Linked DNA regions of Homo sapiens. The protein of the gene in region 2 interacts with the protein of the main gene of each other region in a pairwise test. Each region holds a gene or a part of one and is shown on either strand. Other genes may lie near its edges.

Region 1 (3,819 bases), on a different chromosome or scaffold from region 2:
CCGCCTCAGCCTCCCAATGTGCTGGGATTACAGGCGTGAGCCACCGCGCCCGGCCTGAGGATTGTTAACTAAAAAGTTTGAGACCCAGATCTGATCCTTATTTTCTGTTGGACATCCCTTGAAGAGTTGAGCTGCTTTACAGAGATGGCTTATATCCACTAAAGGCCTGCACTACAGCTAAATTATAATAGGTCATTGGAATGCTTGGCACGCAAGGCCCTTTATGTGCTAATTCAAACCTGAATCCTTTTGCTTCTTTACATATTATCTGTATTCCTATTTGCCATTCTCTGAACTTGCAACATACTGTTATTTCTAGTACCTGGAATTCCTCCTGACTTCCATCTTTATCCACCTTTCAAAGATGCTACCTATTGTTTAAAGCTCAATCCGTGAAGCCTACAGATGAAAATATTCCTTCCTTGGAACTTAATATCTTCCTGTTAGTCTTTGCACTGAATTAGTTTTTTATACATTTTTTCTCACCAAAGGCCAGGCCTGCATCTTGCTCATTTCTGTGTTCCTTATAGCACTGGCAAGAGTTTGAACTTTGTAGTTGTTCAGTAAGCATTTGTTGATTAAATGTAAAACTCCAGAGAAAATAGGTGGTACTTAGTATTAACAATTAACATATATTTTTACTTGTATATGGGAATTGATAGGGAGCATCCTCGAATGGGAAAACATCATTTTGGAACTGGACAGGGGTGGGTGGGAAGAGTAGTTGAATGCTGTCTCCTTGCACGTCTGACCATGCACGGTTTCAGAATTCTTGCTGCCTTAACTACTATTACTACCATTTTACAAGTGTCTTAGTTTTCATTTTACCCTACACACTGTATAATGCTATTGGTGAATGCAAATGAGGTGTAAATTCAGATGAGTGAATGTCTTCGTGTGATAGTAGATAGTTTCCAAAGGAGTGATTTTTTTTTCCCATTACAGGCATGTAATGAATTTACTACACATGTGATGAACCTTCTCCGAGAACAGAGTAGAACACGTCCCATTTCTCCAAAAGAGATTGAAAGAATGGTGGGCATCATCCATCGAAAATTTAGTTCCATTCAGATGCAGCTCAAACAAAGCACTTGTGAAGCAGTTATGATTTTAAGATCAAGGTTCCTTGATGCCAGGTATGTGAAGCCATAAATCTATTGCATGGCTTTCCCCCGTCTGTCACTCCTTGTGTATTATTTTCTGTAAAACTGACCAGTTGGTCTTAGATTCTTTTGGCCATATGAGTCTTTTGTACAATGGACAGGTAATTCAACTCATGGTTCCTGTGCTGTCAAGCTTTCCTGTCTGGGAATGGTAATGTGGGTTAGCTGCCAGTTTAGTGACTCAGGAAATGAATAGGATTAGTGTCTCTGCTAATGACTTTAGGAATATGTAGCCTTTCCATTCTGATGCTAAAAGGTATTTTTAAGGATAGTTTTCTGCATATAACTGTTTTAACAAGGGGTATTTTGTAAGAATTTCTTAATGTTACACGGGTTGTGCATAATATGGGAAAATACTTGGAGATACTGATACTCCTAAGAAGGAAGTGGCATTTCAGTTAATAGCAGTTACCACAAAACTCCAGAATCTGTATTTCCAAATCAAGAAAGAAAGCCTACCATTTTTCCTGTAAGGATGAAAATTTCCCTTTATCTGAAGCTTTCCCCAAGTTTCACAGGAGTTAGGTAATATATTGTATATGGTAATAAATTGTCTACAGTGACCTACTGAGTGACAGAACAGAAGAATTGTCAACGTCATAGTGTACGCTGCCCCTGTAGGGATGCCTCTCGGGGCATTGCTAAAGCTTATGATGAATCTGCAGCTTTGGAAAGAAGTTTCTATTTTGTTTTTCTTTCTTCTCCCATGGAATCTGACAGAGGTGATAATTATCATCCAAATCTCACAGTATTAAAGGAAATAACTAAGATAGCTTCTCAACTGGAAAACAAAGTGTGTGGAGCATTTTCAGTGTTTTTCATTTTAGCTCTTTATTTTCATCTCAGTTCCTGCCCATCCTTTTGTACATGGGCTAGCACAGTACCTACTAGTCTCCCTGTCTCCAGTCCTACTGCCCTCCAGCCCATCCTCCATATCCCTTGTCTGTTTCTATAACATCACCGTGCTACCATGATTGCTTTGCTTGAAAACCACAGTAGCTTTCCAATGCTCGATACATGCATACTTCACATATACACTCCTTAACCTGACATTTAAGGCCTGTTCCTGTCTGCATTACTTCTTTGTTGTTGTGAAGATTTTATTATTCTTTTTTCTATTTTAAAAATGCCAAGCTCACTATGGAAAGTTTGGAAAATATATGGAATAAAAGGATGAAGGATAAAAGTTAACCTCATTTTTATTACCTAAAGAAAAAATCACTATAAATGTTTTACAATATTCTCTCTCTTTTTGTTTGTTTGGGGGCTTTTTAAAAGAAATATTTCTGTGATGGGTCAATATGCATAATTTGGTCTGCTTTTTAAAAAATTTACCATGAATACATGAACATTTTCATGTAGTATAAGCTCTAATTATTAATAGCATTTTAACAATTGAAGTTACCAAATGGATATAAAATAAATAATGTCCTTAGCATTCCCTTATGCATTCCCTATGCACTCCACCCAGGCTGGAGTGCAGTAAATGATGCTATCATGGCTCACTGCAGCCTCGACATCCCATGCTCGAGTGATCTTCCTGCTTCTGCCTCCCGAGTAGCTGGGAGGCATTTGCCACCATGCTCGGATAATTTTTGTATTTTTTGTAGAGATGGTGTTTCACCATGTTGCCCAGCCTGGTCTTGAACTCCTGAACTCAAGCTATCCTGCCTCCCAAAGTGCTGGGATTATAGGCAGGAGCCACCATGCCCAGCCAACTATTAATTTTCATATAATTTCTTCCTTTCTTCCTTCCTTCCACAAATATTTATTGGTACTGAGGATATATTGGTAAACAAGACAGATTAATATACTTGCCCCAATTGAGCTTATATTCTACTTGAGGAAACAGACAGTAAACAGGTGAACAAATATACCATAACATTCTATTTAATAATGTAATTAAATGTAATAGGGTGATAAGTGGTATGCAGAAAAATAAAGCAAGTCAAGGGGAGAGAAAATGGAGAGGGTACTATTTTAGATAGATTTTTATTTAAACTAACATTTTAATGAAAATCTTCATTGATTGAACCTTTTTGGTCTTTAGGATTATTTCCTAAGGATCAATTCTTAGAAATGGAATTATTAGATCTGAGTTTGAACATTTTCAGTGTTCTTATTTATATATCACTAAATTGTTCTTTCCTGTGTTTCTTCCAAAATGAAATGCTTCATGGAATTATGTTTCTACTGCTTAGAATTCCTTCTTTTCCTAAGTCTAACCACTTACTTCCCTGGCTCCCACAACAAACTGTCTCTCTAAGCTGGTTACCAGTAATGAGTCATCATCTGTGAGGGTATCTGGAATGGAGCCCGGAATGGAACCAGTGCTTGTACTTGTTGGATCTAGTGAGATCTTGCTCATCGTTCCGGATCTGGTCTAAATGCTCGCTTTTCAGAAAATCCACCTTAATCACCCTGCTGGACTAGCCCTTCCTTCCCTTGAACACTTATACTATGTTTACGCAACTATTCAGACTGAAAGTCATGTAGGCTCCTTTTTCTTGTAGTTTTTCATGAACATTTCTTCTCTCCCTTAGTAAGCCACAGTGTCATTGAAAGCAACAGCCAAGACTTACACATTTGCATTCCCCACAATTCTAGCAAATGACTTACATGTTAGAGGCTACCAAAAATAATTTATTGACTGGCC
Region 2 (3,819 bases):
GAATTGGAGTTGCATGACTTGGCTGTGACCTCACAGGGTCAGCTGAGGCCAGGCTGGGCCCAGAAGCTGGGTCTCCTGATGCTTAGTGAGGACAAGCACCATTGGGCCTCAGGCAGGGAAGATCCAGGGTACACATGGCAGGAGCCCAAGCCTTCAGGCTGGAACACTCCCCCAACCCAAGAAGCCCTTCCTCTTCTTTATTAGTACACTCCTCTCTGGTTCCAACCTGGGGGGATGGAGGAAAGAGAAAGAGGGAGGCCTGCATTCCCGAGTCCCACGTCTGCCACCTCTTGGCTGAGAGACCTTAGGCAGATGATTATCCCCCTCTGGGGCTTGATTTCCTGTCCTATAAAAGGAAGTAACACTCCCCTCCTCACCCAGGGTGATGAAAATTTAACAGATATGGGCCGGGTGTGGTGGCTCATGCCTGTAATCCCAGCACTTTGGGAGGCCGAGGCGGGCAGATCATGAGGTCAGGAGATTGAGACCATCCTGGCCAACATGGTGAAATCCCGTCTCTACTAAAAAATAAAAATAAATTAAAAAAATTAGCTGGGCGTGGTGGTGCGTGCATAGAGTCCCAGCTACTCGGGAGGCTGAGGCAGAGGAATCTCTTGAACCCAGGAGGCGGAGATTGCAGTGAGCCGAGATCGCGCCACTGCACTCCAGCCTGGCAACAGAGAGAGACTCTGTCTCAAAAAAAAAAAAAAAAAAAAAAAAAAAAAAGAAAGAAAAAGAAAATTTAACAGATATGAATGTGTCACAGAGTCAAGATAGCTAAATACTTAAGAACCTGGGCTCTGGAGCCAGACATGGAGTCCTACCCTGGCTTCACTGCTTACCAGCTGTGTGACCTTGGCCAAGTTACTCAACGTCTCTGTGCCTAAGTTCATCATCAAAGGAGAATTCTAGTAATACCTACTTGATAGGGCTGTTGTGAGGATTTAATGGCTTAATGCGCTTTGGACAGCATATGGAACAAGGCAGACTACCAACATCTACAATGCACCGTTGGGGGCTAACATGTGATCATGCCCCCGCACCAGGCCTAAGAGCAGTGGGAATTAGTTCTGCACCAAAGGAATGACCCTCTGATGTGGGTCCAGTGACTGTGGCAGAATTTCCAGTGCCTGTGGCAGAATAATGGGACATGCCAGGCCTTTCAAAACCTAGCACATGGACAGTACCTATTTTGCCCAAAGTTAGGGCTGTCTCCAGAAAGAACAGAACCAGAAGAAGTTCTAAAAACCAACTGGCTATGAGGCCCACAGGCAAATCTGGCCCAACCTATTAGGTGAGACAGGTCACACCACTTGATGAATGACATAGTGAGGATGTGAAAGGGAAGCCATGTGCCCAAGGGTATGCAGCTTCTCTGTGGGGGGCCTGGGTCAGTTCACAATCCCCACTGCTCTTCCCTGGTGCCTCGTTTCCTGGGCCAATGGTGAGGGCAGGTGTGGAGCAGACCCCAGTCTTGTCTTGCTCTCTGCTTTGGATGTCTTGAAATCTGTGATTTTTCCCTGAGGTTTAATAATCATTTTGCCTACATGTAATTTGGGATTGTCTTGGAGTGCATGGAAATAATTATATACACAGAAGGAAAGAGAGGGGGAGAGAGAGAGTGGAGAGAGAAATTGAACCATAAAATTACAGAATCAGACAACCCCCAAGCCAGAAGGGACTGCAGGCACTGTTGAGTCCACCTGTCTCAATGTGTTTGCCGAGGGGGGCAATGAGGCTCAGAGACTGGGAGGAGCTGAGCTGGGACCAGAGGGTGAGTCTTGACTCCTGGGCATTGCACCTTAAGACCAAGAATGACTTGCTCTGAAGAGACCAAGAGGGAGCCCTAGAGAGCAAGGGCAGGACTGAGGGCTGTGGCAGAACCTGCAAACCTCGTGCCAGAGGTGTCCCCAACCTCTGTCCTGGTCACAGCCTTAGCGCCCCTCGCTGAAAAACTGCACCCATCTAGTCTTTCCACCGATAGCAACTTCCTCCCAGCTCTTGCTTCATGCTGCACCTAGGGAACTTTCTTATCAGCCAACAGGTCCACGTTGCCCCTGTGCTTCCAGCCCTTCCATACTCCCCAAACTCCTAAGCCTCCCAAACATAACTCCCTACCCACCCCCTTTCCTCTCCAGCAAGCAGCCTCCACCCTGCCAGGCCTGCCTCCTCACCACCCCTACACACTCACACTCCATCGAGCTCACTTCTGCCTCTGGGCCTCACCTGACACGCCCTCCCTCCTTTCCTACTCACTCCGTCTTCACTTCGAGAAGGAAGCCTTCCCTGATCCCCAGCTGAGGTCAGGTTCCCTATGAAAGGCTCTCAAAGCACCCTGCACCTCTCCTGAAAATGTTACACAATATTTAACACTGCTACAATTTTGCACCTATATGTTATAACGTGGTTGATGTCTGTCTCCCCACTACACAGTAAACCCCATGAGGAGCAGGACTAGGTCTCTTGCTCACCGCTACATCCCCAGCTCGGCACAGGGATCGGCACATTCTGCAAACACAGCTGTTGGATGAGTGATGAGTTGAGACAGATGGCTTAATAAAAACTACTCGGGAGGCTGAGGCAGGAGAATGGTGTGAACCCAGGAGGCAGAGCTTGCAGTGAGCCGAGATCACACCACTGCACTCCAGCCTGGGCGACAGAGCGAGACTCCGTCTCAAAAAACAAAACAAAACAAAACAAAACAAAAAAACTGCTGGGGGCTTCTTTTCTGAGGAAGAGTTCCATAGACCTGGACAATCCTATATTGCCAGACGCCAACCCTCTCTCCAGCCCTGGCTGAGCCCCCTCTCCAGTGGAAGCTTTGCTGTGTTCCTTAAGGCCTTAGAGCTAGGACTGAGGACCTGTAGTCCCAGAACCAGCATCCTGTACCCCCGGACCCCCCACCACACCCCCCACCCTGCCCCACCTCACCTCCCCTGACAAGCTGCCACCTCCTTCCCTCTCTCCCAGCTCCCCAAGGCAGCTGGTTACATAACTGGGGATTCTGCATTATTTATGACCACTGATTATTTTTTAATTCTGTGATTACGTTATTATCTTCTTGGGGGGCTGTGGAGTTGGAGGGGCAGCGAGCTGATCGTGATTCATGGCTCTCATCCTGCAATTTGGCCTAATTGGCCAGGGAGCTTTGGTAAATCTGTCCGGAGGAGGAGAAGGCAAAGGGAAAAGGGAGGAAAGGAAGGCGTGAACAAAAATAATAAGAAAAAAATCCACGCAATTCTTGCTGAGCTGCAGGTGATGGAGCTGACCCACTTTGGCGCAGCTCCGTGGTCCCCAGCCTCTCCTGCTCCAGCTGCTTCCTGGCTGGGCCCCATTTATCTCACACTTGCATGGCCTATGGCTTTCCCTGCCACCTTCAGACAAAGCCCCTTGCCGATGGGACTGCACAATGGAATGGCCAGGAAACAGAATGCCAGGATGACTGCTTCCTAGGCAAATCCGGTGGGGGATCCTCCACTGCCACCCAAGGCTGGGGAAACGTTGTGCCAACCCCTCCATCTTCCTGAGGTGTTTGGGCCAAAGTGAGCAACTGTGCCCTTAAGTTATATCCCACCCAAGAGTCACCGATGATGTGGGAGACACTGGTGTTAATGCAAGGATCACTATTGAGCCCCCATGTTGAGTGACGCCTGGGGGAGGGGGAAACCAAGGATGAGGAGGCCAAGTACCTGCTCAAGGTAAGCTCAATACCTGGGGGCCAAGGACAGGGGCCCTTAACCCTGCCTTTGGGAGCTTCTGGTGGGTGGGTAACAGGGGAGCAGTGGGGAGGCAGATTCCCACCCAGAAACATGACCAGCA

Evidence for each region.
Region 1: the proteins of INSYN1 (region 2) and PBX3 interact in a two-hybrid assay, tested with the Homo sapiens proteins (one large-scale study listed by BioGRID).

What each region holds. Positions count from the first base shown.
Region 1 is NC_000009.12:125,928,710-125,932,528, forward strand, and holds part of PBX3 (pre-B-cell leukemia transcription factor 3), read left to right. Parts: intron 1-945; coding exon 946-1,136; intron 1,137-3,819. UniProt on the Homo sapiens protein: Transcriptional activator that binds the sequence 5'-ATCAATCAA-3'.
Region 2 is NC_000015.10:73,743,133-73,746,951, forward strand, and holds part of INSYN1 (inhibitory synaptic factor 1), read right to left. Parts: intron 1-3,819. UniProt on the Homo sapiens protein: Component of the protein machinery at the inhibitory synapses, probably acting as a scaffold. Inhibitory synapses dampen neuronal activity through postsynaptic hyperpolarization.